Linked DNA regions of Homo sapiens. The protein of the gene in region 4 purifies or fractionates together with the protein of the main gene of each other region. This does not show direct contact. Each region holds a gene or a part of one and is shown on either strand. Other genes may lie near its edges. The genes, in order: RANGAP1, RGPD8, NAV1 and RCC1.

Region 1 (7,466 bases), on a different chromosome or scaffold from region 4:
CACATTTAGTATGTGATTTAAAAAAAAAAGGGGGGGGTTGGGGGGCCGGGAGTGGTGGTTCACGGCTGTAATCTCAGCACTTTGGGAGACCGAGGCAGGTGGATCACGAGGTCAGGAGTTCAAGACCAGCCAGGCCAACATGGTGAAACCCCGTCTCTACTAAAAATACAAAAATTAGCTGGGCGTGGTGGCACACGCCTTTAGTCCCAGCTACTCGGGAGGTTGAGGCAGGAGAATTGCTTGAACCCGGGAGGCGGAGGTTGCAGTGAGCCAAGATCGCGCCATTGCATTCCAGCCTGGCGACAGAGCAAGACTCCAACTCAAAACAAACAAATAACAACAACAACAACAAAAAGGCATTAACAACAACAACAAAAAGGCATTATTAGGAAATAGTTAAATAAAGATATCAGGGATTGGGCCATGCACACATCTGGGGGAACATGATTCCTGCAAAGGGAATAGCAAATGCAATGGCTCTTGTAGGGGCAGAGGGTTGGAGAAACTGCAACAGGGCCAGTGGGGCTGAAGCACAGAGAGAGAGGAAAAAAACAAGGTAAGAGAAGAGACAGTTAACAAGGGGCCCAAGTCATAAAGCCCATTTGAAGAACAGTGGCTTTCGCTATAAGTGACAAGGAAAACCACTGAAGTTTTTAGCAGAAAGCAGATGTCATCTGACGTACATTTTGACAGGATCACTCTACTTGCCACATAGAGCCTGGCATTTAGAAGGTGCTCAAGAAACGACCAGTTGAAATTGCATAAAAATTAACCAGGCCAGGGCCGGGCGCAAAGGCTCACACCTATAATCCTAGTACTTTGGGAGGCTGAGGTGGGCGGATCACGAGGTCAGGAGATCGAGACCATCCTGGCTAACACGGTGAAACCCGTCTCCACTAAAAATACAAAAAATTAGCCGGGCCTGGTGGCGGGGGCCTGTAGTCCCAGCTACTCGGGAGGCTGAGGCAAGAGAATGGCATGAACCCGGTAGGTGGAGCTTGCAGTGAGCTGAGATTGCGCCACTGCACTCCAGCCTGGGCAACAGAGCGAGACTCACCTCAAAAAAATAAAATAAAATAAAATAAAATAAAAATTAACCAGGCCGGGTGCGGTAGCTCACGCCTATAATCTCAGCACTTTGGGAGGCTGAGGTGGGTGGATTACCTGAGGTCGGGAGTTCGAGACCACCCTGGCCAACATGGAGAAACCCTGTCTCTACCAAAAATACAAAATTAACCGGGCGTGGTGGCACATGCCTGTAATCCCAGCTACTCAGGAGGCTGAGGCAGGAGAATCGCTTGAATCTGGGAGGCAGATGTTGGGGTGAGCTGAGATCGTGGCATTGCACTCCAACGTGGGCAACAAGAGTGAAACTCCGTCTCAAAAAAAAAAAAAATTAACCAGAGTCGGGTGTAATGGTTCACTCCTGCAATCCCAGCATTTCCGGAGGCTGAGGTGGGCGGATCGATTGAGCACAGGAGTTAGAAACCAGCCTGGGCAGTATGCCGAAACCCTGTCTCCACTAAAAATACAAAAACTAGCTGGGTGTGGTGGCAGGTGCCTGCAGTCCCAGCTACCTGGGATGTAAGGTGGGAGGATCACTTGAGCCCCGTAGGTGGAGGCTACAGTGAGCTGAGATCTTGCTGCTGTACTTCTGGAGACCCTGTTTCAAAAAATAAATTAACCAGAAACCAGCCCAGTGCAATAACTCACACCTGTAATTCCAACATTTTGGGAGGCTAGGCGGGAAGATCACTTTAGACCAGGGTTCGAGACAAGCCTGGGCAACAGAATGAGACCCTGTCTCCACAGAAAAATTTAAAAATTAGCCAGGTGTGATGGCATCTGTAGTCCCCATGACTTGGGAGGTTGAGGTGGGAGGATCGCTTGAGCCCAGGAAGCCGACGCTGCAGTTCAGCGGTGATCGTTCCACTACACTCCAGCCTGGGTGACAGAAGGAGACCGTCTCTAAAAAGATAAAAAAATTTAAAGAAAAACCAACAAAAAAATTAACCTGAAACCCCAGCATCTCTTGCAGTTCTGAGATGGGACAATTTGAGGGTAAAAGGTGGTGGTGAAGCCTCCAGATAGAATAGGGACAGAACTTCTCAGCTGAACGGGGGCCCATTCCTCAGTCCAAGAGAGAGCGAGACAGAGATGCACCCCTCCACACTCACTTTATAAACCAAGAAACTGGAGCACAGAAACGTAAATTGATTTGTCCAAGGTCAGCAAAGGATCAGCGCCAGAGCAAAAGCAAAGGGCTAATAGAGAAACATCCTCTCCCCGCTCCGCAGCAACGTCAGAGACTTTCTGAGGTGAGATGCATGCTCCTGCAAAGCGTCAGCAGTGACTCACATCGATTCCAGGGACAGCGGCGCCAGCCCGGGGCCCCCGCGGGCGTGGGCCTGCTGGGAGGTGGCTCTGCGGGAGCGACGCGCGAATACAGGCCGCAAATGATAGGCGGGCGGCGCAGGAGCCCCATCTGGAATCCCCGGCGGACTCGCACCGCCTCCGGTTGACAACAATGCTAATATGAGACGCCACTGCTAGCAGCTGCAGGCTGAGCTGCTCTGGCGAGTCAGACGCCCTTTAAGCCTCAGTTTCCCCATTTGTGAAAGGAGCCAGCGCCGCTCAACAACCCCACTCCCACCGCCACCCCTGGGGCGCTCGGCCGTCGAAGGCTAAGTGAAGAAGGCCGAGGGGGCAGGCAGAAGGCGCACACGGGCGCCACGCCCTCCTCGCCCCGCACCCCTGTTCCAGGCAGGTGACGGGGAAAGGAAAGGGACCCTGACTCTACCGTAAACAGGCGGCGCCGCCGCGTGGGGGGAATCGAGCGCGCGCCTCCGCCCTCTGGGGCGGGGACGGATTTAGGGTCCGGGTCAGGCCGGGGTCGCCACCTCCGGATCCAGCGGTCCAGATGTCCAGCCGGCTAGTCTGTTAGCTCTCTCGAGCTCCCGGCCTCACGCGCTTCCAGCACCACCTGCTCTCCGCACCGCGGCGGATGATGGCGGAGGAGGAGGATTTTGAAAGCCGGCAGTTTCTTTGCTTCGATTTGATTTGTTCGAGGCCCCGGCCGGCTTGCCCTCGCCCCGCTCGCGCGGCCTCTCGGGTAGAGTAGTCCGGTTCCCCATCTGGGAGCGCGATGGGGCGCGCACCGCGAACTACCCGTCCCATGGCGCACCGCGCGCAGAGCGTCCTCCACCGCCCTCCTCTTCGCCCTCCCCTGGTGGCTTCTGGCTCTTTCTCGCAGAGACCGCAGGGAGGTGTTCAGCCGGGAGCGCCCAGAGACTACAATTCCCAGAATGCGTTGCACCCAGGTCCCTCAGCTCTTCCGGAAAGGTTTTGTTCGCGTAACTTTGTTGATAACAGGTACTGCTGGCTGCTGGGTCTCTTGGGCAAGACACAGGTATCCATTTCCCGAAAGAAAAGACTCTTTTCCGTCCCATGAAACTGAAAGGGCATTCGAAGGCTTCCACATAAATATGCACAAATTACCTGATAATTAAAAAGGGGAAATAGTAACTATCGTAGAGAAGCTCCGCAGACACCACTTGAACGGCCACGTTAACATCAACAGCAGGACAAGCTGACATTCATCGCACGCTTTCTGTGTGATGCACTGAGAAAAACACGGCGTCACCGTCCGGTCTATAATGCATGACCTTAGTCTAATCATGAGAAACCCAAGCTGAGGGACATGGTACAGAATAACTGATCTGTACCCTTCCGGAAATGTCTGTATTATGTAAGACAAAGAAAAACTGAGGAACTGTTGCCGATTACAGGAAACGAAAAAGACAACTGAATGCAAGACATGGTCCTGGATCGGATCCTGGGTGGGGATTGCTATAAAGGACAATACTGAAACAGCAAAACTTGACTATATTAGATAATAGTATTGTATCAATGTTAAATTTATTAATTTTGATTATGGTACAGGGTTATGTAAGAGACTGCCCTTGTTCTTGGAAAAAAATGCTGAAATAATTAGGGACAAAAAGGACATGATGTCTGCAACCTTTATGGTTAAAAGAAATATACCTATACATATACATAGAGAAAGCAGAGACACAAATGTGGCAAAATGTTAATCAGTTAATCTGGTTGAAGAATATGGGAGTTCTTTGAACATTTTTGCAACTTTTCTGTAGGTGTGAATTTAAGCATAAAAACACAAACAGCGTTTTTTTTTTGTTTTTTTTTTTTGAGATGGAGTTTCACTCTTGTTGCCCATCTTGGCCTCCCAAAGTGTTGGGATTATAGGCGAGAGAGTGTGAGACCAGCCTGGGCAACATGGTCAAACCCTGTCTCGACAAAAAATACAAAAATTAGTTGGACGTGATGGTGCAAGCCTGTAGTCTCAGCTAAGGGCCTGAGGCAGGAGGATCTGGAGCCTGGGAGCTTGAGGCTGCAGTGAGCCGTGATTGCACCACTGCATTTCAGCCCTGGCGACAGAGCAAGACCTTGTCTCAAAAACTGAAAAAAGAAAAAAAAAAAAAGTTAAACAGATCATGCAGGCTGGGCGCAGTGGCTCACACCTGTAATCCCAGCACTTTGGGAGGCCGAGGCGGGCGGATCACCTGAGGTCAGGAGTTTGAGACCAGCCTGACCAAAATGGAGAAACCCCGTCTCTACTAAAAATATAAAATTAGCTGGGCATGGTGACGCATGCCTGGAATCCCAGCTACTCGGGAGGCTGAGGCAGAAGAATCGCTTGAACCCGGGAGGCGGAGGTTGCAGTGAGCCGAGACGCACCATTGCACTCCAGCCTGGGCAACAAGAGCGAAACTCCGTCTCTAAATAAATAAATAAATTAATTAATTAATTAACAGATCATGCCATATCCTTTTACACACAGCTCATTTAATCTTCACCACCACAAGGGAAGTGGGCATCATTACCACCCTTCCCAGCACAGAGATGAGAAAACTGAAGCTCTAGACAGAGTGTAACTCTCCCAGTTCTCAAAGTTCCTGAGATGTGGATCCTCTTTCCACCTTCCCTCTCCTTTTTACCTACAAGGCCCATGTCAAATGCTACTTCATGAGTCTCTCCCTCCTGCAGGTGCCCACAGCAAGATGCAAAGCCCCACAGCAGTTGGCCTGGGACTCTGGGGCTCTTTGACAGAGTTAACACTGTTCTTGGCAGTTTCCTCCTCAGCCTGGGAGGGTCTCCAGAGCAGACGCTGTATCCATCTGGGCAGTATCTTCTCTGGGCCTGGCCTGTCATAGGTGCTTCAGGTTTCCCCATTTGAACCAGATACCAGTCGGGTTACCGGATGTTTGCTTAAAATGAGTCATAGGCTTCCTGCTATTCCTGTGCTGCTTCCAGCTAGGACTGATCGAATCAGTCTGGATTTTCCTTGGGGTGATCCGCAGGCTCCCTTTTCCAATTTTACTTCTTGAGACTTTCCTTGGCCCTCACACAGAGACCTCCCAAAGGGAAGAGGAAGGTGGGCAGGGGAACATCTTAGCTGATCCCGTCCTCATCCAGCTGATAGGACATTGGGTTTTCGGAACTGGAAGGGAATTCTTAGACAACAGAAATTCAGTGGCCTTCAAGGACCTGGGAGGTAACAGGAAGTCATGGGGCTTGTCGGGGCTTGGTGGGGCTTGGGGGGAGTTAGAGAGTGGATGTTCTGCCTGAAGGTGTTCACATTCGAAGCTAAAAATCACAAACTCAGCCTGACAGCACCCCCTAGCAATCTGGATTCTGTCACTCCTATATCCTGATTTTTTTTTTTTTTTTTTTTGAGATGGAGTTTCACTCTGTTGCTCAGGCTGGAGTGCAGTGGTGCGATCTCAGCTCACTGCAACCTCCGCCTCCCAGGTTCAAGTGATTCTTCTGCCTCAGCCTCCCGAGTAGCTGGGACTACAGGTGCACGCCACCACGCCCGGCTAATTTTTGTATTTTTAGTAGAGACGGTTTCACCATATTGGCCAGGATGGTCTCAAACTCCTGACCTGGTGATCCACTTACCTCGGCCTCCCAAAGTGCTGGGAGTACAGTACAGGCGTGAGCCACTGTGGCCGGCCTCCTGAATCTATCTTAAACCTCTTTACAAATGGGGAGACTGGGGTTTGAAAAGGAACAGGGGGTTTGCCCAAGGGTGCCCAGTGAATCAGAAGAATCAAGAATCATCACTGTTTCTGGCCGGGCACAGTGGCTCATGCCTGTAATCCCAGCACTTCGGGAGGGCGAGGCAGGTGGATCATCTGACGTCAGGAATTCGAGACCAGCCTGGCCAACATGGTGAAACCCTGTCTCTACTAAAAATACAAAAAATTAGCTGGGCATGGTGGCAGACACCTGTAATCCCAGCTACTCGGGAGGCTGGGGCAGGAGAATCTCTTGAACCCAAGAGGCGGAGGTTGCAGTGAGCTGAGATCACGCCATTGCACTCCAGCCTAGGCAACAAGAGCAAAATTCTGCCTCAAAAAAAAGAATCATCACTGTTTCCAAGCAACACACTTATCTTCTCTCTTTCTCCTTCCAGCCCTTTCTCCAGCTTTCTCTCTTTCAAGTTATCACCTGAGAGCTAGTCTGCCTGGCCCAAGAAGTGTAATCATGGCCTTTGACAGATGGATAGTGTCATCCAAGACTATCTTGTTCCTTATTTCAACAAATGAAGAACTAAGGCCCAAGTTACAGTGTGACTTACACATGAGACAAGGCTGAGCATGGTGGCTCACAACCAACTGTAATGCCAGCACTGTGGGAGGCCAAGGCAGGAAGATTGCTAAAGCCCAGGATTTGAGACCAGTCTGGGCAATATAGTGAGACTCTGTCTCTACTAAAAACAATTAGCCAGGCATGGTGGTACATACTTGGAGTCCCAGCTACTAGGGAGGCTGATGCAGGAGGATCCTTGAGCCCAGAACGTGGAGGTTGGTTGCAGTGAGCCATGGTCAGGCCACTGCACTCCAGCCTGAATGATAGAACAAGACCCTGTCTCAAAGAAAAAAAAAAAAGAGAGAGAGAGAGAGAGAGAAAGAGAATAGAAGACAGGTCTCTAGGGTCCTTTTCTATTATTATTATTACTTTTTTTTTTTTTTTTTTGAGATGGAGTCTCACTCTGTCACCCAGGCTGGAGTGCAATGGCACAATCAAGGCTCACTGTAACCTCTGCCTCCCGGGTTCAAACGATTCTCCTGCCTAAGACTCCCGAGTAGCTGGGATTACAGGTTCCCACCACCATGCCCAGCTTATTTTTGCATTTTTAGTAGAGATGGGGTTTCACTGTGTTGTCCAGGCTAGTCTCAAACTCCTGACTCAGGTGATCCACCCACCTTGGCTTCCCAAAGTGCTGGGATTACAGGTGTGAGCCACCATTTCCGGCCTTCTAGGGTTGTTTTCAACATATACACTTCACTTGTGAGTGCGAGGTGAGTTTAAGGGGGAATCAGGAGAAGCAGAGAGTGTTCCAGGCCTTTCTCTGTTGTGCAGCCTTTTTTTGTTGTTTT
Region 2 (7,020 bases), on a different chromosome or scaffold from region 4:
GAGGTTACAGTGAGCAAAGATGGAGCCAGCTGCTGCACTCCAGCCGGAGCAAGAGAGACAGATACTGCCTAAAAAAAAAAAAAAGCCTGCCTCCCTCTTAATTTCCTGCTTTAATCCACTCCCAGCCAGGAAATCAGAATCACCAAGCTTCTTATCCCTAGGATAGAGCCTTACAGCATCACATATTGTGTCAATTAAAGATCTTTTATACAAGCTATTCTCCTGCCTTACAATTACAGTTTAGTTTTTTATTCATTGCTATTTTCCATCTGATTAAGGTATCAGATATCTAACCAAAAACAAATTAAGATATAGGCATGGTCCTCTTTTACTCCAACAGAAGACAATTTTTAGAAAAAGTGTTTTAAGCCAAACAATTTCTTGCCCTTGGTATAAAGCAGCAGCATGCAGAAAACACTAATTGCAGTTTCAATCTCAATGGAATCTAGGCTGGTCCTTAGCATCAGTCTGAGTGATAAATCCCTTATTCCAGAATACACTTAGGAAGAACTACTAAGAACATATTTTTACCTATTTCAAAGAAGAAAATGAGAAAAGGCATTGATTTTAAAAAAAAGAATACATGTTACGGTTTGTACTTACTTTTTAGCAAGATCATATTCTTTAGCTTCATAATACAGCTTTGCAAAATAGAATCCTTTCATTGACTTCTAAAAAAAAATTAAAAGTTGTTTTATGTTTCATACAGAAATATTTTCCAACATTTTTTCAAAAGTAGTTAAAGCCTGACAAATGCATAATTCCATGTTTTATAATTTCCTACCACAAAACAAAAAATAGAGCTGGGTGCAGCGGCTCATGCCTGTAATCCCAGCACTTTGGGAGGCCGAAGTGGGCGGATCACCTGAGGTCAGGAGTTTGAGACCAGCCTGGCTAACATGGTGAAACCCCGTCTCTACAAAAATAGAAAAATTAGCCAGGCATGATGGCGGGTGCCTGTAATCCCAGCTACTCAGGAGGCTAAGGCACAAAAATCAGTTGAACCCAGGAGGTGGAGGTTGCAGTGAGCCAGAGGTTGCAGTCAGCTGAGATCGTGCCATTGCACTCCAGCCTGGGCGACAGAGACTCCATCTCCCAAACATCATCATCATCATCATCATCATCATCATCATAAATAAGCTGGGTGCAGTTGGTCACACCTTTAATTCTATTTAATTCTAGCACTTTCAGAGACCAAGGTGGGAGGCTAGCTTTGAGGCCAAGAGTTTGAAACCAGCCTGTGCAACACAACAAGATCCTGTCTCCAGGGGGAAAAAAATAGCCAGGCATAGTGGAGCATGCCTGTGTTCCTAGCTACTCAGGAGGCCAAGGAAGGAGAATCACTTGAGCCCAGGAGGTTGACACTGCCGTGAGTTATGACTGTGACACTGCACTCCAGCCTGGGTGACACAGGGAGATCCTCTCTCTAAATAATAAATACATAACATACAAAAAATAAATTCAAGAAAGCAAGACAAGCAGACAACAGAAGTTAAGAATTTTCATCAGCCTTGGAAATCTCGGAAACCCTGTGGTACCACTCTCTCACTTAACAAACAAAAGAAACCAGCTTTCTTTGGGGAGGAAAGGTATTCCAGAAATCTCTTCTCCTACCATGTGTAAGCCTCTATGGGAAAGAATAAATAAGTACTTAGGATCTATTAAGGCACTGAGGATTCCCGGGTCCATGTACTGTTCTCTCTACAGATCAGATCAGTATTTTACAGTCAAGGAGTCAAAAAGGCAGAAATAAATATTGAATTCTTCAAGTAATAAACGAGGTCCACAGCCTGGATCCTTGGTTACATAAACTCCAAAGTCCAAAATGCTGATGCACACCAGGCTGGGTGCGGTGGCTCACACCTGTAATCCCAGCACTTTCGGAGACTGAGGCGGGTGGATCACTTGAAGCCAAGAGTTCGAGACCAGCCTGGCCAACATACAGAAACCTCCTTTCTACTAAAAATACAAAAATTAGCTGGGCATGGTGGCACACGCCTGTAATCCCCGCTGCTTGGGAGGCTGAGGCAAAGAATCACTTGAACCCGGGAGGCAGAGGCTGCAGTGGGCCAAGATCGCACCACTGAACTCCAACCTGGGCAACAGAATGATTCCATCTCAAAAAAAAAAAAAAAAAAATGCTGATACAACCAGAGTATGTTCCATCCATGTGATAGAGTATACAGCTACTCAAACATCTTATTTTTGAAATTCCAAGACCCCAGTGAATGTCCAAAACGATGAATAGTACCAAACCAGGTTGCCATCAATCGAAACATGTTTCCTGTTTGTGTCCTCCACCCACAAATTTAATGTCTTGTCCATCTCAACTAAGCACTTATCACACACTGTGGCTGTAACTTTTGCAGTTTGGGGTGTCACAACAAAACTAGCACAAATTTCTTTTTCCTTCTTCACAATTTCATGGACAAAAGATTTGTTCTTACCATAGATCTCAGCAACCCCAGTATATGATCTTTTTTCTTTCCTAAGTCAAAAACTCACCTCTTCACTTAAAGGAAGCACTATATGGCTTCTCTCTGGCATATGTGAACTGCCAGCATCGCTATTCTTGCTCTTTGGTGCCATTTTAAATAAAATAAAGGTCACTTGAACACAAGCACTGCAATACTCCAACAACTGATCTGATAACTGAGGTGGCTAGTATGTAACTAGCGGGTGGGGAGCACATACAGCATGAATATGTTGGACAAAGGGATGATTCGTGTCCTGGGTAGGACGGAGCAGGAGGCCGTGAGATTTTTATCATGTTATTCAGACCTGTTTGCAATTTAAAACTCATGAAATGTTTATTTATATAATCTTCCATTCAATATTTTTGGACCACGGGTGACGCAGGTAAGTAAAACCACGTAAGGCAATACTGTGGATAAGAAGGGACTACTGTACCAGCAACGAACAATCAGAAAATGAAATTAAGAAAGCAATTCCATTTACAATCGCATCTAAAAGAAAAAAATGCCTGGGAATAAATGTAAACAAGGAGGTGAGAGACTTGTATGCTTAAATTACAAAACCTTGCTCAATGCCAGGCTAACACCTGCAATCCCAGCACTGGCGACAGAGCAAGACTCCGTCTCAAAAAAAAAAAGAACTATAGCAATCTTAACAAAAATAATACACAACAGTCAGGACAGCACATAAAGGAACAAGTCCTGTTCCCCCCTTCCTTTTTTTTTTTTTTTTTGAGATGGAGTCTTGCTCTGTCGCCAGGCTGGAGTGCGGTGGCTCGATCTCAGCTCACTGCAACCTCTGCGTCCCGGGTACAAGCTGGGACTACAGGCGCACGCCACCATGCCCAGCTAATTTTTGTATTTTCAGTAGAGATGGGGTTTCACCATGTTGGCCAAGATGGTGTCGATCTCTCGACCTTGTGATCTGACTTCTTCCGCCTCCCAAAGTGCTGGGATTACAGGCATCAGCCACCGAGCCCGGCCAGTTCCCCCTTTTCAAAATGAAGAAATAGATTCAAGGTACAATGCCAAAACATAATAGAAAAATAATTCCATTACCTTCTTTGCTTCCAACTATGTTAAAACATAATAGAAAAATAATTCCATTACCTTCTTTGCTTCCAACTATGTTATTAAAGTAGACAATCTTAAGATAATTAAACAACTTTACAAATTATTCTTCTATATGATCTTTTGCCTCTAACCTGCTCACTTTACAAGGGAACTGAAGCTCAAGCAGACAAATGCCTTGTTTAAAGATATACAGCTAGAAAGGAGCACAGCCCATGTTATGTAAACAGGACAATATCTGATGCAAGCAGTACTTCTTTACATGACAGCAGATGTCACTATAAGCAAATACCTGAATTCACTTAAGCTGCCAAATATCAAGAACTGATGCAGGGCTGAAAACAGGAACAGTAAGACCCTAAGAGATGCCACATCATCGCTATCTTGCACAGTAAGATAGAGATGTAATTGTAATTGTCCAAAACTTAATATTTGTGGCCTACTTTTTCATTATGCAGTTCTAAATTTCTCTCTTTTTTTTTTAATTCAAACGGAGTCTCACCCTGTCGCCCATCTTGCACAGTCAAATGAATCTCCCTCCCCCTAAAATCCTCCAAAAAAGCTGCTGTTCTCAACAAACCCATCTGATCAGCTCCAAATCTGTGGAGTCCCAACAAGGGTGAAGGCCGTGATTATACAGGACAATGAGGAAAAGTCTAGATACTGAACCATGAGTTCCCCAATCTTCTTCCCCTGGAACATAAGGGTAAGGAAATCTCTCAAAAGGCAGAACAAACAAAAGAGGAGAATAAGAGAAAAATTAGAGAAACTCCAGCTTTCAGGTAAACATCATTAAAAAAAAGGGTAAGAAATGGTCAAAGAAATAATACAAGAAATGCTACAGAACTGAAAGAAATGAGTTTCCCAATTGAAAGGACACTTCCAGAAAACCTTTAAGTTACCAAGAACAAGAATCTCATGGGACTCCTAACAACAGAACTTCTAGAAAATGGAGCAATGCTTTCAAAATTGCAAAAAAAATTATTTGAAACTCAGAATTCGATAACCAAATGATCAACTAAATTAAGTAAAGATGTTTTAAAGACATACCATTAGTTTCTAGACCAGCCTGACCAGTATGGTGAAATCCCATCTCTACTAAAAATAGAAAAAATTAGCCGGGCATGGTGGCGCACACCTGTAATCCCGCTACTCGGGAGGCTGAGGCAGGAGAATCACTTGAACCTGGGAGGCGGAGGTTGCGGTGAGCTGAGACCATGCCACTGCACTCCAGCCTGGGCAACAGAGCAAGACTCTGTCCCATAACAAAAACAAACAAAAAAACCTCTCATCCACTTTTCCTCAAAGCAAGTGAGACTATGCTACACCAAAACAAAGAAAGTAAATGAAGAGGACATGAGATACAAGAAACAAAGGGTCTAACTCAGAAAAAAGATGAAGGGAATTCTCAAACTGGTGATAAAGGGAAGTCCCAAGAGCACAGCTGTGTAGCAAAGAGGAAGAAAAACCAATCCGGGTTGGAGAAGTTGGTTAGTAAGGGTATTCCAGGTAGACAGACAATCAATCAATCAATCAATGTTTTAAGCTGAAATTGATGGGATTATGTGACCAGTTTGACCACATTTGAGGGTTTAAATTGCTGAGTTTAAGTAAGCAAGTAGTAACACAACATACAAGCAAACCAAAAAATAAAGCAATTATTCAGTCCAGGAAAACGTGGGTGCAGCACACCAGCATGGCACATGTATACATATGTAACTAACCTGCACAATGTGCACATGTACCCTAAAACTTAAAGTATAATAAAAAAAACAACAAAAAACTGCACAACAAGGGCAATTCAAATGCAAAAATATTTACCTTCTATTTATATAAATGTTAACTATTCATTTAAACAAAAACTGCAGTAACAGTACTGAAAGAATGAGGGGCAAACCAAAGTGTCTGAGGACAGTTTTGGAGGAGCATAATAGCCAGTACAGAATGTCTAAAATGGGGCCGGGCGCGGTGGCTCACGCCTGTAATCCCAGCACTTTGGGAGGCTGAGGCGGGCGGATCATGAGGTCAGGAGATTGAGACTATCCTGGCTAACACGGTGAAACTCCGTCTCTACTAAAAATGCTAAAAAATTAGCCGAGTGTTGTGGCGGGTGCCTGTAGTCCCAGCTACAGGCTGGGGCAGGAGAATGGCGTGAACCCCGGAGGCAGAGTTTGCAGTGAGCCGAGATCGCGACACTGCACTCCAGCCTGGACGATAGAGCCAGACTCCGTCTCAAAAAAAAAAAAAAAAAAAAAAGAAAAGAAAAGAAAATGTCTAAAATGGGAGAAAGGGAATTAAAAATAACAAAAGTATATATGTGTGTTACTCAGAAGTATGAAGTATAGATGTAAAGGGCAGAAAAAACAACTAACAGCTGTCAAAGGTGCCTGCCTGTAGTCCTAAGTACTCAGGAAACAGAGGTAGGAGGATCATTTACGCCCAAAAATTTGATGAGCAACACAGCAAGACCCTATTCTAAAAAACAAATAAATAAAAATAAGAGCTGTCAAGTAGACTTTGAGAAGTAGGAATCAGCTGCAGAATAAGAAATCGACTTGACAGAACATAGAAAAACTAAACAGAAGCCATCGGGAAAAAGAAAAACTAGAGAAAGAATTATATTTTTTTCCTTTTTTCTTTTTTGGAGACAGAGTCTCGCTCTGTCACACAGGCTGGAGTGCAGTGGCGCAATCTCTGCTCACCACAACCTCTGCCTCCAGGGTTCAAGCAATTCTCCTGTCTCAGCCTACCGAGTAGGTGGGACTACAGGCGCTGCCACCACGCCCGGCTCATTTTTGTATTTTTAATAGAGACAGATTTTCACCATATTGGTCAGGCTGGTCTCTCGGCCTCCCAAAGTGCTCGGATTACAGACGAAGAATATTTTTAAGAAGGGCAAAAGCACATGTGAGGGAGTAGAAAAATGGCAAAACAAGAGAAGACTAACAAATGAAAGCACAATGGAAGACTAGAAAGATATGATATACAGACGCATCATCACACACCAAAACTCCGACATTCTAGAAGGCATGGGCAGTTCACAGATGGCCAGCCTCTGCCAAACTGGGGGAGAATACTAACCTCTTCATATTCTTCACAGCCACTGCCTCTTCTCCCTCCATTCTTTACCTTCTATCCAAAGCACCCTGTTTTGTCATTTCACTCAAACCTAACTTTACAGAATAGCTTCACATGTTCCAGTTACTCACTAGTTAATCCATATTCCGCTGAAATCCCCAGGTTCTAATGTAAATGACTTTAAATTTGGGGGGGAAAAAAAGACTCTAAGTGTAAGAGAGGTGGTCATAATAACCAATCGTCAAAATGTTGCTACCACTCCACTTTATTTAATGGAGAAGTTATGTAGTTGAAAGAACATTCTGACTTCTGTCTAGACCAGTGGTTTTTAATCTTTTGGAAGCCAAGGTCCCCACTAAGAATCTCAGAAAGGCTCTAAGGTTGCTTTTTTTTTTTT
Region 3 (7,474 bases), about 170 Mb from region 4:
TTCTGGTCATGGCTGCAGAACTCTGTAGATTTAGAGTTGTATATTTCGAGTGGGTGAATTTTATAATATGTAAATTGTACCTCAATAAAGCTGTTGAAAAGAAATAAAGAAATGTGCTGAACTAGTACATGATCAAGCTCTCCACACTGCTATGGAGACTATCAAGACTCCTTTCCTCTGCATATATGTAGTATTTGAAAACATGGACTCAGGAGCCAGACTCCTTCAGTTCAAATCCTACCTCTATCACTTACTAGCTGAGACCCAGACAAGACACTTGACCTCAATTTCTTTACCTGTAAAGTGGAGATAAAAAGTGGTACAGATTTCATAGGGTTGTTGTGGAGATTAAATGGGTTAATATATGTTAAATGCTTAGCATAGCAGTTGGCACACAGCAAATGCTATATAAGTAGGGACTATTATTATCTTCCATACCACAGGATTGCCACAGCCAGAACCAGGCTTCTTAAAGGGGCAGGTTTTCTCCCTGCAAACCCAACCCCTATTCTCCTGGGCCCCTTAAAGAAACACCTCCTCTTCAAAGGCCATCTTTGGAAAAACACCACGATGGCTTTCAGTACATCTCACTTCCTGGTAACAGAGAGAGAGTGAGAAACAGCATCTTCCCGATAAGGCAGTGACTCGCTCACTCTCGTAAAACATTCATTACTCTGACAGCTTTTCCCCATGGACTCTTTCTCCCAGGTCCCTGTAAGCTCCAACAGTCAACACAGAGGGCCCTTCTTAAAGGGGGCCCAGGGCCAGTCATGAGGCCCGAGTGGCCAAGGATGGAGATGCCTGTTTTGCCCATGTCCAACCCCATTCCACTAGCCTAGGAAACCCCTCACTGGTTAATGAATCAAGCTAGAAAGGACAAGGATTTTTAGTGGCCAGTCAGATTTCTATCACTGAAAAATGGGTTTTCAAGCACTGAGCCCATAACCACAGTGAATTTGACTGGGGTGGGGAGGTGGGGCGGGGTTGGGAATATGAGCTGATGCTTTCTGTTTGATAATCCCACTTCTGCTTATATGTGAGCAGCACTGCAGAAACCATTTTCTCCTCCATGATCTCACTGAATACTCACCATGCCCTTGGTAGGTGGGTATTCTTGTCCTCTGGGTGTCAACACTCCCTTTTACTGATGAGCAAACTGAGGTGATGCACTTCAGCCAGCATCAGAACCAAGGCATGGAGTCAGGTCTTCTGAAGCTGGGCCCAGTGTTTTTCCACTGTGCTTCAGAGGAGGAAGTCAGAAGCTGCCTCGGACTCCTCCTTAGAAGCTCCAGTGACGCTTATTAAGTGCTCAAGAAAATAAAGCAATGTGCTATCTTCATATTCCTGCCAAGGACCTTACAAACTGCTCTGGGAGCCCCAAACAAGACAGTCCGAAGGATAAAGACAGTCTCCCTGTGGGCCACGTGGAACGCAGGAGCTGTGAGTGTGTTCAAATCCTCAAAGTCCCATGTCAGATAACCCAAGAAACAAATTAGCATTGGTCCACAGACCTCAAGGCGGCAGGAAAACAGGCAAAGCCCCCAAAGAAATCAGGCTGGGGCTGAAAATGTCACTTGCCATACTTCCTGGGGTTCCCAAAACTCTCATCTCGTCGGAGGCCGGATCTGATACTCTATGGGAGTGACAGCAAGCTTCTGGGCTGATTTTTTAAAACTTATTTGTCAGGTTGACATTAATCCTTTCGCTACCCATCTTGTCCCAAAGCAGGATTGGCTCTAAGCTGTGGAGGAGGGGAACAGAGGGGCTGTTGGGTTTTAAGGAGCCTCAGTGAGGCCAGCAGGTCCTGGAGGCCACCTTCTCGGTGGGGAGTGGGGGTACAGGTGACTATGCCAAGGGTCTCCTGCAGTGAACCTGAATCTCCCTCCTTCCATCACTCACAAATCATTTCACGCCCCAGCACCTCTCCCACTCTCTCCATCCTCCCCTCCCCACAGCGAGGTCCTTGCCTTTACCTCTTATTGATTTTCATATTTAAGGAAAATCCATTTGCTAGACTCAGAGCAACTGAGTCATCACTGTGTTCAGACAAAAACTACTCACAAAGTAGGCATTTGGCAGAGGCCACTTCTGGGATGGGCGGGACCCTGTTTCTTACCCAAACAGTGCTCTGTCCAGAGTCTCTTCTGGCTTCTCCTCCCTGCCGCTCTGTCCTATCCACTTTCTCTTTCAGTAGCTTTCATATCCTCTGCCTGTCACCCCAACCAGACTGGCCCCTTTACTCCTTCCTCCCTCAACCTGTCCATATGCTATTATGTTTGCCTACACATACAGGTTCACTGTTGGAAATCTGTGAGTGGGACATTTTTCTGAATTTTTATTTTAGATTCAGGGGGTACATATGCAGGCTTGTTACCTGGGTATATTGTGTGATGCTGAGGCTTGGGGTACAAATGATCCCGTCACCCATATTGATTGGGACATTAGGAGCAGGGTGAGGGAGAACTTGTATGAGCAGCCACTCATAAGTGGGAGAGAAATATTGATCCTGTGTACTGATAGAAGAGATCTAACCCTTACGAAATTATAGCTTTGGCTTTCTTTTCCATTCTGGGTAGCACCCAAGGAATGACATCATCCCAGCATTACCAATGTGGATGGGGGCTATGCATCCAGCCTCACAATGGGTCAAGGAGTCATTTCACCTTCTGATAGTCATTTGCATACCTACTGTGTGGTCCTTGGTCCCTGGGGTCCCACCTTTTGAGCTCTCAAGAAAGGACAGTGCTTCTTCTTAAAGGACTAGGCTCCCCTTTGCAGGACTGGGAAGAGCACAAAAGGATTCTAGCTAGCACATCATTGAATGCCAAACTGGGCGCAGAGTTACATCTCCAAGAGTTAGATCTCCAAGAGTTAGATCTCCAAGAGTTAGTTACTCCAAGATCAAAGTAACAGCTAATGTTCACTGAGCATTTACTATGTGCCAAGCACTATTCTAAGTGTGTCACCTATAGTATCGCATTTAATCCTCCCAACACTCTTAGGAGATAGGAACCATTATTATCCCATTTTACAGATAAAGAAACTGAGGTAGCTAGAGGTTAAAGAGTTCAGTAAGTTCCCATGGCTAAAAAATCATTGATCCAGGATTTGAACTCATGCAGTCTGCCTTAAGAGCCCACACTTCTAGTCTTTATACAGAGGGTAAGGGTGTCACTCTGCAGTCCACCCCCTTATCCCGCGCCAAAAGGCAGTTCACTCCCTTCATGGACAAAAATCATACAACAAATCTTTTTCCCTGATCAGTTGGGAACTTCTTGAATGTCACTGCTTGTCCATTGTCTGGTGTCTCATCTCTCCAAATTCAAAGCCACTGTGGCCTTACTGACTGTGTGGGGCGTTCAGGGAGGACTCAAGGGCTCTCATCCTGACTCTGCTCACACTGATTTTGCTGGCAAAGAGCTGTGAGACCTCCCAGGGAGTAGGCAGTTTTGCTTTCTATCCATCAGTCCTCCAACTTGCAACCCCATGGCCCTGGGAATAGATCAGTCCTCTTATTTGTTGGCAGGAGCAGGGGAATCTGCTGGGTCCTTGGCCACAGCTACTCCCTTTCCAAAGCCTGCTTCAAAGCTCAGGTCATCTGGCTTCCTTCTGCCTTCTTCCTGCAGACCCTGGAAGTCCCCAAGCCAGGAGGCAGGGGGCTTGCACTGCTTCTGCAGTAGGTTCTGGCTGAGGGCCTTCCTCCCATTCACTCTCCTCAGGTCCTGTCATTTCCTCTCTCCTCTTCTTCCCCCTCCTCCCACTCCCAAGTCCCTGGAAGAAGGAGGAGGGGCATCGGCTGTCTGGAAGGTGGGGAGAAGTCACTTATTTTACTGAGCACCTACTATTTGCGGGGCACTTGCGGGGCCTCCCCCTCCTCTAAGACAGCTCAGACAGCATGACAGTTCAGTGGGGTGGAGAAAGAAAGGAGGTGGGTGCCCGGGGTCAGAAGTCGGGTGGAGAGGCTGGCCCATCCATCTGTCCCCTTCTCCTAAAGAACTGCGGCTGAACCAGCGAGCGGTACCCGGACGACATGTGGGGGAGGGAGGAAACCCGGCCTGGAAGTGGCGGTGGCGGGTCCCCGGGCAAAGGAAAGGCTCAATTGTGCAAAGGCTTCCTGCCCTGCCAGCTCGCGGGTCCGCCACCGAGCAGCCGCCTTTCTGCGGCCAGCCTGGGAGGCGGGACGGGAAGGCGAAGGCAGCAAAGGGTTACGGGAATAGCTTTCCAATGACAAAGTCTGGAAGGGACCCATGCCTCCGCCCCTCTGCGGGTTAAACTGGCACAGTGCAGGGGGAGGAAAGCCAGGGCGATCGGACGGATTCTCTCCTCCTGCCCGCCCCCCGGCCGCCAGGCACTCCCCTCCTGGGCCCGCCGTGGAGGCAGCCGGCGTGTGCCTGGGGCAGCGGGTCACGAGGCTCCGCCCCGGCCGCCGTTCCCGAGGGGACGGCACTTTGTTCAGGATGCCGCCTCCCTCCTCATTGTGGGGCCGGGGCCGGCGGCTGCCCTAGTGCGGGGCCCGAGGCTGGAGTGCGCGGCGGACGCCAAGCCTGGTGCGAGGGGCCGAGGCGGCCTGGGGAGCCCCGGGAAACTTTGTGCTCGCGAGAAGCGGACCCCGCACCCGCGCTGCCCTTGGGGATGCGCGACTCTGCGCGGCTGCGGCGCGGACCCGGAGCCCGGGCGGGCAGGCGCTCCGGTGAGTGGCCGGCGCGGGGCGGTCGCGCGGTCGCGGCGCTGAGGGTCTGGCGCTTCCCGTTTTGCGAGGCTTGGCTGGCAGGTCCTGCGAGGCCGAGACCAAGTCTCGGGGTAGGGGAGGTTGGTGCCCGAGGGAGGCTGTGGGCTGGGCTCGGGAGAGGCGCTGGAATAAATAACAACCAAGATGCTCGCGGCTTCCCGGGAAGGTGTGTGCCCTTTCGACCCCTATGGGACTGACTGCGCGTTTGATTCTAGAGTTGACTCTCCGGGGGGGCTGCCTAACTTCAGTCCCTCTGAGCCTCAGTTTCCTTGTTGTGAAATACCCACAATTTAAAGTGCGTTGAGATCTTATCATGAGACACCAGGTGCTGCGTTCTTATACTCGCACCCACACGGCAAGCACACACCCTACCCGCACCTCTGCCTTTCGTTGAAGCAAGAGTTAACTCCTCCCATCCCAGCAGGAGCCAGAGGAACAGCTGGGGCAGGTGACCTCGCGGGCCGTTCCAGAAAACGTTCCCCGCACCCCCGGGATGCGCCGGGAAGCGCCCTCCCGCCAATCTCCCGGAGGCCGTCCTCTCTGGCGCCCGCCCAGTGCGTCTGGGAGCGGAGAAAGTGGTCCCGGAGGAGAGGGGAGAGAGGAGAACGCAGAAATTGGGTGATCACGGGGAGCTCACCTGAGCGCTCCCGAGGCTTGGGCTCTGGTCCCTGCTAATCCCCAGAGCCGATAAAAACTGGTCATAGGATAAAGAAGCAGCTAAGTTTGCAGCGGGCAGAGGGGAGGCAGGAACTGGAGAGGACGCGAGTGGCGGGTGGCGGGGGCGGTGTGTAGGGGTGACGTCCACCCGGCAGAGAGGGTTCCTTGTCCCCTGGAGCCGAACACAGGAAAATCAGCTGGTGAGTCAATGGGACTTTGTTAGGATAGTCACAGGGCGCAGCTGGCGCCGGCTTAAGGGAAGAGCTGGATCCCCCCTTGATAACATGCTGTTTATCTGGCTTCCTGTTTCAATGATTGGGATACCATTGGCTCGTTCAAATTCAATGCTGAGAAGCCTGTGGGCACGTTCGTTCACTGTGCAAAAGCAGAGGGCTTGCCTGGGTTTTCATCTGTGGGCTAGCTCTTGTTCCCCCTACATGAAGTCCCCGGCAACTCACTTGTAATGGGACTGGAGACTTCGCAAAAAGAATGGCCTCCCCAGGAGGAGGATCTGACGATCTGACACTGCAGAGACCTTGGCTTCCTTTAGGCCAGAGATATATATGATTCCAGCTTGCTTATGACATTTTTTTAAATCCTGCTTTGACTTTTTGTTGGTGTGTCTTTGGGATTGACCTAAGAAGGGAGACAGAGGGAACAGCTCTATGGATTTTGTCTTCTAAGATGAGCTTCCTAGTAGTATGTGCTTTCACCATCAGTTTTTAGGGGAAGTTTTCAATCATCAGTTTGTAGTTCTCTATCTGGCTGTGTTGCTAACCACCTGGATGATCAGAGAGCAAATAATTCCTCATGTCTCTGTCCTGGTTTTCACTTCTGTAAAGTGGAGCCAGGAAAAAATCGCTACGGTTGGAAGAATAAAGAAGGTTTTTCAGATTTGGGCTCCAGCCCCTAGGGTCTATTTCCTGAACTTTCCAGGTGAAAGAGAACACCAGGTGAAAGAGAACACCATTTCCGGGTGAAAGAGAACAGCCCCTGATCTGAACTTCTTCAGCAGTTTATCTGATTTCCCTTGGGGCAGGTCTCACATTCTGCTTTGCATTTTTTGTTTTTGTTGATTGTCAGTGTGCCATGCTTTGTATTTTAGATATTTGGGTGTTTGTGCACATGCCTATCTTCCTGTGAGTACCTTCCAGCCAAACACCCTATCTGACCACCCACAACACTCAGCACACAGTAGGCACTTTATAGATGCTTGCCAAACTAATAGAATTGGGGAGAAAAACTAAGTAGCATTCAAAGGCCTCCTATCTCATTTAAGTGCCATTTATTCATTCTTTGGGAGTTAATTTGCTCCCCCAGACCCCCTCTACTTCTTTTTCCCTCAAAAGCAGTTCATAAAAATGTTGATTTGCCCATGGGTAAGTAGGCAAGCTTTGAATATTTGGGCTTTTTCTGGGATCTGGCTTCTTTGATAAACCTTGGCCTGGGGAAACTGAAAACAAGAATGCTGTTTTGGCCAGGTGCGGTGGCTCATGCCCGTAAGAGGGGCGGATCACCTGAGGTCAGGAGTTCGAGACCAGCCTGGACAACGTGGTGAAACCCTGTCTCAACTAGAAATATGAAAATTAGCCGGGTGTGGTGGCAGGTGCCTGTAATCCCAGCTACTCGTGAGGCTGAGACAGGAGAATTGCTTGAACCCGGGAGGCAGAGGTTGCAGTAAGCCGAGATCATGCCATTGCACTCCAGCCTGGGGGCCAAGAGTGAAACTCCATCTTTTTTTTAAAGGAGTGCTGTTTTTCCTTTCTTGCCTAATCTAGCCCCCTCCTGAGTCCCTGTGAACCTCTGGTATCAACTCAGTTTGGGCCCAGTAGAAAGGAGTGGCCTAGAATAGAAAAATCTCCTATCCATCTTTTACAATTTGTCTCTATTTTTGCCTTCCTATTTCCAATCAGTGTCACTTCCCTCTTCTTTTAAAGTTCTTTTGACTTCTTGAAGGGTTTGGCCTTTAAGAAAAACCAGAATGTCAAAGTTAAAAGGATCTCCACTCCTCCCAACCCCTGCTCTTCTCCCCTTTACAGGCAAGAATCAAGGCCCACTGAAGGGAAGGGATGGGCTCAGAGCTACACA
Region 4 (7,704 bases):
CAGCCAAGATTGCGCCACTGCACTACAGCCTGGGCGACAGAGCAAGACTCTCAAAAGGAGGCATGAAATGCACCTCAATCTTTTGCTCCAAGTCTGCCAAAGATTGTCAAACCCTCCCTGTTAAAAAAAAAAATCAGTTTACCTACTCTCCCTTCTATATAAAGGACCCTAAAATTAAATGTCAATGCCAAAATGCGAAGTGCAGATCGTCTTCTCTCCTAAAAGAAAAGAAATAATGATTAGACTCCTGAAGATCCTACTTCAACTTAAAATCTAGTATACTAGATATGTTTCCTGCATGGTTTGTCTCCCCAGTCATTGTCCACAGGACTCTGGGAAGCTGTAGGAATATGCAGGCGCAGACACGAGGCCCAGCTTCATCTTCAACGTTGTGGAAAGGGACTGTACATCATGGGGCAGAGCCCTAAGCTCCCCTATGCCACTTGGACAGAGCCTGGGGAGAGTGACCTCCCAGGGTATCCACGTTGGAATGCTCATTAGTGAGGAATTGGAGTAACCGACAAATCCAATATTGCTAATCACCCACAGTATTTTCAAGGGCTAGTATCTTTCTCAGCTCAGGCTACACATGTAGATAAAGCCAATTAGGCTTCCTACAGTTCACTAGGGCAGCTTTTACTACTTTGCACTTTTAATGAGCTGACTAAAAAAAGCAATTTTTACAGAACAGAGCATATGTTGAAGTTATGTCAACATGCCTACAAAAATGCAGCAAAGTCGATATTTGGCTATTGCTCTGAGAATGATTAAATGCCTCAGAGGTAAATCCTGACCAACTAGAATAAAAGTCTCTTCAATCCTATTTCCATTACAGAAATCATTGACAAAGAGCTGATAAGCAAAAAACAATTAGCAGATTTACTCACCAAATAAGAGTTACTTGGAATCCTTAACAAATCCTGCAAAACAAGATATTAATCTATTAGTACAGCAAAACCCTAAACTTTTTCAACGAGGGGCCTCATGCTATCGCCTGGGGTTGGAGTACAGTGGCACTGGAGTATAGGTTTGAGTATAGGTCACTCCTGGGCTCCAGCGATTCTCCTTCCTCCAGCTACCTATCATCATGCCTGGCTACTTTTTAGCCAATTTTTCTTAAACATGTATTAAGACTTCAATCCAGCCAGGTGTGGTGGCTCACGCCTGTAATCCCAACATTTTGGGAGGCCAGAGGCTGGCGGATCACAAGGTCAGGAGTTTGAGACCAGCCTGACCAACATGGTGAAACCCTGTCTTTACTAAAAATACAAAAATTAGCCTGGCGTGGTGGCGGGGGCCTGTAATCCCAGCTACTCAGGAGGCCAAGGCAGGAGAATCACTTAGCATAATCACTTGAACCCGGGAGGCAGAGGCAATGGAGTGCGCCACTGCACTCCAGCCTGGGCAACAGAGCGACTCCATCTCCAAAAAAAAAAAAAAAAAAAAAGACTTCAATCCAGATTCAGTGCTCTAGAAGGCTGTTTCCTGCATGGTTTGTCTCCCCAGTAATTGTCGACAGGACTCTGGGAAGCTGTAGGAATATGCAGGCGCAGACACGAGGCCCAGCTTTATTTCCAACGTTGTGGAAAGGGACTTGTACATCATGGGGCAGAGCCCTATGCTCCCCTACGCCACTTGGACAGAGCCCGGGGAGAGTGACCTCCCGGGTGTATCCACGTTGGACAATCAGTGTAACGCATAAATTTACAGAATCCAATAGGAAACAATTTCATCCATTCATGTTACTACAGATCTTAAACAAGAAAGCAAACGAGTTTCCACCCTGTCCACAGTGGGGTGTTAAAAAAAAATCGGTTTCTAGACTGGTAACATGCATATTCAGCTATTCTAATTACTTTACAATAGGCGGTTAGTACTATGTGGAAGGTACCGCAGAAGCAAAGACAACAATTAGGCCCAGCTATCCTAAATTCAAATGAAACACGTGGACTTGTTAATTACCCCCAAATCGGCCAGGCACGATGGCTCACGCCTGTAATCCTAAAAATATAAAAATAAAAATGACCCAAATCACAAAAATACGAGAAAGCATAATTACGAAACGCAATGCTTCCAAATTATGAAAATCTTCGGCCTGGCGTGGCGGACCACAAGGTCAGGCGTTGGAGACCAGCCTGGCCAACATGGTGAAATCCCGTCTCTACTAAAAATACAAAAATAAGCCAGGCGCGGTGGTACACGCCTGTAGTCCCAGCTACTCGGGAGGCTGCGGCAGGAGAATTGCTTGAGCCCAGCAGGCGGAGGTTGCAGTGGTGCGATCAAATAAAAAGAAAAATTGAGAAAATTCTTAAAGGCAAATGAGGATCCAGAATAAAACTGTGTGCAATTATATTGAGAACGACAATGTGCCTACTATGAGGCAGTAAGATAAACAGTGGGGGTGGCGGTGCACCTTCAGAGGCTCGCTGGGTCGGGCGGCAGCCCTGCGGGTCCCGAGGTCTCCATGGCCCACTTCTGGCCCAGGCCCGTCTAACGCGTACTTTAGAGTTGGGACCGATGCCGCCTAAGACACCCATATATAGTTTTAAATTACATGATTTCCGGCCAGGCGCGGTGGCTCACGCCTGTAATCCCAGCACTTTGGAAGGCCGAGGGTGGTGGATCACCGGAAATCAGGAGTTCAAAACCAGCCTGACCAACATAGCGAAACCCCGTCTCCACTAAGAATACAAAAATTGGCCGGGCGTGGTGGCACGTGCCTGTAATCCCAGCTGCTGGAGAGGCTGAGGCACGAGAATCGCTTGAACCCGGCAGGCGGAGGTTGCAACGAGCACTGCAGTCCAGCCTGAGTGACAAACCGACTCCGTCTCAAAAAAAAAAAAAAAGTAAATAAATAAAATACTATATGATCTTCCTAGGGAAGCTCGGCTACTGATCTATAGCATTAGACCCACAACTCCGGTGGCAAGCATCTGATCACACTTACCAAGGATCACACTTACCAAGGAGAAGAAGCGACCACTGCGAATCTGTCTCCAAAAAGGAGAGAGAAAACGCGAAGCATCCTTTTTAAACCTTACGAAGTGCCCGGAAGTCCTGGAATGTCTATTGCGCGTGCGCAGAAGCATGCGCAGTTAGAGAATCAGAAACTCACTGAGGCTTCTGGGAATCTACTGCAGATTGAGCCCCACCCCTTCCTGGCTGGGAGGCCTCTCGCGGTAGTGGATCCTTCCCGCGGGACCTTGCTGGGGAATGTACGTTACAGAAATAGGTTTGTAGGTATGTAGCTGCAGAGGACGTTTACTTCTGTGCAATCACTGGACTCAGTCTGTAGGATATGCCCTTAGATAAACTGGCCAAAAAGTTTTTGGAAGAGTCGAACGCGGTGGCTCACGCCTGTGATTACAGCAGCTCTGAAGGCCGTGAGGGGCGGATCGCTTGAGGCCAGGAGTTCGAGACCGGCCTGGGCATCATGGCGAAACCCCGTCTCTACAAAAAATACAGAACATAAGCCAGGCATGGTGCCGCGCACCTCCAGTCCCAGCTACTCGGGAGGCTGAAGCATGAGAATCGTTTGAACCTGGGAGGCGGTGGTTGCAGTGAGCCGAGATCGCGCCGATGCACTCCATCCTGGTCGACAGAGCGAAACTCTCTCTCCAAATAAATAAGTAAAACGTTGGAATAATAAGAATGCAGAATGAAAAAAATACATATAGAGAAATACGGAGTATCAAAAGGAATTGAATCTGCTCTGTCACCTGTGAAAGAAATAATTTGATAAATGTGAAGGTAAATAAGATGAAAGTGCCCCTAGACGAATCAGATAAAAGTTTAAAAACTCCAGGCCTGGCCCGGATAAAAATAAATAAAAATAAAAAATAAAAAACTCCATTGCACAACAGTGTGAATGAATGTAATTAAAAGCACTGCCCTATACTCTTTCTTTTTTTTTCGAGATGGAGTTTTGCTCTGTCACCCAGGCTAGAGTGGAATGGCGCGGTCTCGGCTCACTGCAACCCCGGCCTCCCGGGTTCAAGCGATTCTCCTGCCTCGGCCTCCCCAGTAGCTGGGATTACAGGCGCCCGCCACCGTGCCTGGCTAATTTTTGTATTTTTAGCAAGACGGGGTTTCACCATCTTGGCCAGGCTGGTCTCGAACTCCTGACCTCAAGCAATCCACCCGCCTCGGCCTCCAAAGTGCTGAGATTACAGGCATGAGCCAGCGCACCTGGACTTTTTTTTTTTTTTTTTTTTTGAGACGGAGTCTCGCTCTGTCGCCCAGGCTGGAAGGAAGTGGTGTGATCTCGGCTCACTGCAACCTCCACCTCCCAGGTTCAACCAGTTCTCCTGCCTCAGCCTCCCGAGTAGCTGGGACTATAGGCATGCCACCATGCCCGGCTAATTTTTGTATTTTTAGTAGAGACCGGGTTTCACCATGTTGGCCAGGCTGCTCTCGAACTCCTCACCTCAAGTGATGCCCGCCTTGGCCTCCCAAAGTACTGGGATTACAGGCCTGAGCCACCACACCTGGCCCCCTATACATTTTAAACTAGTTAAAAATGGCAAGTTTTATGTATATTTTACCACACACAAAACCCTCTGAATATGAAGTAGGCAAGTAAAGAATGCTTACGATATATATACATAAGAAATGTTGCAAATATGATGGAATTTTTAGTGTGGTGTAAGGTGGAAAAACGTTGGCTAGAGAGACAGAGCTATCACAGCTGGGCTATCTTGAGTAGTAACGTTTATGGTGTTCCTCCTACATATTAGATTTTGTTCTGAATGCTTTATTACGTACATTATTTACTATCGCAGCAATTCTTTTTTTTTTTTTTTTTGAGATGGAGTCTTGCTCTGTTGCCCAGGCTGGAGTGCAGTGGCTCGATCTTGGCTCACTGCATTCTCTGCCTCCTGGGTTCAAGCAATTCTCCTGCCTCAGCCTCCCGAGTAGCTGGGACTGCAAGCAAGTGTCACCATGCCCCACCAATTTTTGTATTTTCAGTAGAGACGGGGTTTCACCATATTGGCCAGGGTGGTCTTGAACTCCTGACCACGTGATCTGCCCGCCTTGACCTCCCAAAGTGCTGGGATTACAGGCATGAGCCACCGTGCCCGGCCTACAAATTTTTTTTTTTTTTTAGATGAAGTCTCACTCTGTCCCCCAGGCTGGAGTGTAGTGGTGCGATCTCGGCTCACTGCAACCTCCGCCTCTCAGGTTCAAGCAATTCTCCTGCCTCAGCCTCCTGAGTAGCTGGGATTACAGGCGCCCGCCACCATGCCCAGCTAATTTTTGTATTTTTAGTAGAGACGGGTTTTCAGCATGTTGGTCAGGCTGGTCTTGAACCCCTGACCTCATGATCCACCTGCCTCGGCCTCCCAAAGTGCTGGGATTACAGGCTTGAGCCACTGCGCCCGACCCCGGCCTACAAAATTTTAAAAAAAATGTTAGCTGAGTGTAGTGGCACATTCCTGTAATCCTAGCTACTTATGAGGTGTGAGGATCACCTGAGCCCAGGAGATGGAGGCTGCAGTGAGTCGTGATCATGCCACTGCACTCCAGCCTGGGCAACAGAGCAAGAACCTATCTCAAAAAAAAAAAAAAAAAAAAAAAAAAAAGACATTTCTGATGTAGGGTTTGTCGTCCCACTGGAATTGCAAGGTAAGAGAAGAACTTGAGGATACCAGAGTTTCAGGCTTAGGAGGCTGAACATACTATGGTCTCTAACCTTGATAAGTGGAAATGCAGGCAGTGGGGGAGGAGTAATGTCCACATTGGAGTATATACGAGTTACCTGAGTAACATCTGGTTGTATATAAGTCCAAAGAGCAATTAGATATATGGGGTTGGGCTTCCTGTAAGAAATCTGAGTTGGTGATAAAATATTTAGAAGTTGTAAGAATTAGCATGGTGGCTAAAGTCGTCTTGGAAGAATGAGGAGAGTGATGGGAAGACATGAAACCCCAGCATTTATTTTATTTTGAGACAAGATCTCGCTCTGTTGTTGAGGTTGGAATGCAGTGGTGTGATCAGGACTACTGCAGCCTGGACCACCAGGGCTGAAACGATTCTCTCACCTCAGCCTCTTCTGAGTAACGGGAACTAGAGGCATGCACCACCATGCTCAGCTAATTTTTTAAATTTTTGGTAGAGATGGCCTCTCACTATACTGCCCGGGCTGGTCTTGAACTCCTGGCCTGAAGCGATCTGCCAATCTTGGCCTCCGAAAGTGCTGGGATCACAGGCATGAGCCACCACACCCGGTAAAACACAGCATTCATTTATTTTATTTTATTCATTTATTTTTGGATGGAGTCTCACTCTTGTCACCCAGGCTGGAGTGCAGTGTTGTGATCTTGGCTCACTGCAACCTCTGCCTCCCGGGTTCAAGCAATTCTCGTGCCTCAGCCTCCCAAGTACCTGGGACTACAGGCACATGCCACCACACCCAGCTAATTTTTTTGTAGTTTTAGTAGAGATGGGGTTTCACCATGTTGGCCAGGTTGGTCTCGAACTCCTGACCTCAGGTGAACCACCTGCCTCGGCCTCCCAAAGTACTGGGATTACAGGCGTGAACCATCGCACCTGGCCGAAAACCCAGCATTTAAATGGTGTTCGAGGAAGAAGCCAGCAGCACAGAGAAAGGTCAGTCAGGGAAGGAGAACCAGAAGACAGCGGTGCCTCAGAAGCCAAGGAAGAAGAGTTTTGAGGACTAGAACATTGTCCAAAGCACCAAATGTTGCAAAGCAGCCAAGTGCAATAACCGAAGGCTGAGAAATCCCTGGTGACCACAGGAAAGCCATATTGGTTTGGATTTCGTTTAGATTTTAATGAGCTGAGTGAATATGGCCTTAGGTAGGGAAAACAATGTGCACAGACCAGAGGTTATGAAGCAAGGCCAAGAAGCCTGTTCAGTTTACATCTCCATCACTAGTTCTTCCTCTGTCAATCATTTAGCCCAGCTGCCTGGCCTGAGAACTTGGGTTGTTTAACATTGGAATAGATTGTGTGAAGGGAGTATAGGAAAAGCAGGAGAGAGGGTAATAGATTGAAGAGAAATTGGGGTCACGGGAAGATTGTGTCTTTGTTGCGGGTGAGGGTAGGAAGGAGGTAAGCATTAAATAATTTATTTAATGCTCCCCCTCCCACAATCCTCACTGAGGACTGTGTGTCCTCAGTGCCAAATGAAGGAACATTAAAGCTGTTTGTTCCTGTCAGATGACCTCTATGCTCTACATAGGAGGCAAAATTCTTTGGGGAAGAAATTAACAATATCCACACAAAATGACAGATGGAGCAAGAGGTCTGGGTTGCTGGTCATTCCTGGTTTTCCCTTCATGCCTCCTAGGGCTGAAATGGAATAGAACGTTGAAACAGTGGTGCTGGCTGTATTTTGGCTTCAAGGATAGGATTTTCTTTGTTGCACATTGTCATCTTTTTATGCTTATTATTTCATCCTTTGCCTATTCAGTGTCCATTGGACCTGCTCCTCTTTTTTCAAGAGACAAGGTCTATGTTGCCCAGGCTGGTATTGAACTCCTGGGCTCAACTGATCCTTCCACCTCAGCTTCCCAAGCTGCTGGGACTACAGGTGTGCATCACTGCACCGGGCTGGACCTGCCTTTTCCTGGGGTACAGTTATATAAATCCACAGAGACCCAAAATTCATTCATTGTTTTGGCAAACACTGGGCAATCTTCATCTTCAAAACAGCTTTCTGGAGACAATTTAACCTCAAAA

What was found.
Region 1: the proteins of RCC1 (region 4) and RANGAP1 purify together in Homo sapiens (affinity purification with mass spectrometry; 3 studies listed by BioGRID and IntAct, with this or other methods). This does not show direct contact.
Region 2: the proteins of RCC1 (region 4) and RGPD8 purify together in Homo sapiens (affinity purification with mass spectrometry; 3 studies listed by BioGRID and IntAct, with this or other methods). This does not show direct contact.
Region 3: the proteins of RCC1 (region 4) and NAV1 purify together in Homo sapiens (affinity purification with mass spectrometry; 3 studies listed by BioGRID and IntAct, with this or other methods). This does not show direct contact.

What each region holds. Positions count from the first base shown.
Region 1 is NC_000022.11:41,283,186-41,290,651, forward strand, and holds the start of RANGAP1 (ran GTPase-activating protein 1), read right to left. Parts: upstream 3,003-7,466; 5' UTR 2,801-3,002; exon of another isoform or gene 2,486-2,800; coding exon of another isoform or gene 2,359-2,485; exon of another isoform or gene 2,178-2,358; intron 1,969-2,177; exon of another isoform or gene 1,716-1,968; intron 1,658-1,715; exon of another isoform or gene 1,578-1,657; intron 598-1,577; exon of another isoform or gene 1-597. UniProt on the Homo sapiens protein: GTPase activator for RAN. Converts cytoplasmic GTP-bound RAN to GDP-bound RAN, which is essential for RAN-mediated nuclear import and export. Mediates dissociation of cargo from nuclear export complexes containing XPO1, RAN and RANBP2 after nuclear export.
Region 2 is NC_000002.12:112,423,637-112,430,656, forward strand, and holds part of RGPD8 (RANBP2-like and GRIP domain-containing protein 8), read right to left. Parts: intron 672-7,020; coding exon 604-671; intron 1-603.
Region 3 is NC_000001.11:201,534,653-201,542,126, forward strand, and holds the start of NAV1 (neuron navigator 1), read left to right. Parts: upstream 1-4,474; 5' UTR 4,475-4,690; intron 4,691-5,366; exon of another isoform or gene 5,367-5,493; intron 5,494-7,474. UniProt on the Homo sapiens protein: May be involved in neuronal migration.
Region 4 is NC_000001.11:28,501,344-28,509,047, reverse strand, and holds the start of RCC1 (regulator of chromosome condensation), read right to left. Parts: upstream 3,006-7,704; 5' UTR 2,964-3,005; intron 2,829-2,963; exon of another isoform or gene 2,721-2,828; intron 1,684-2,720; exon of another isoform or gene 1,477-1,683; intron 921-1,476; 5' UTR 888-920; intron 491-887; exon of another isoform or gene 286-490; intron 219-285; 5' UTR 143-218; exon of another isoform or gene 1-142. UniProt on the Homo sapiens protein: Guanine-nucleotide releasing factor that promotes the exchange of Ran-bound GDP by GTP, and thereby plays an important role in RAN-mediated functions in nuclear import and mitosis.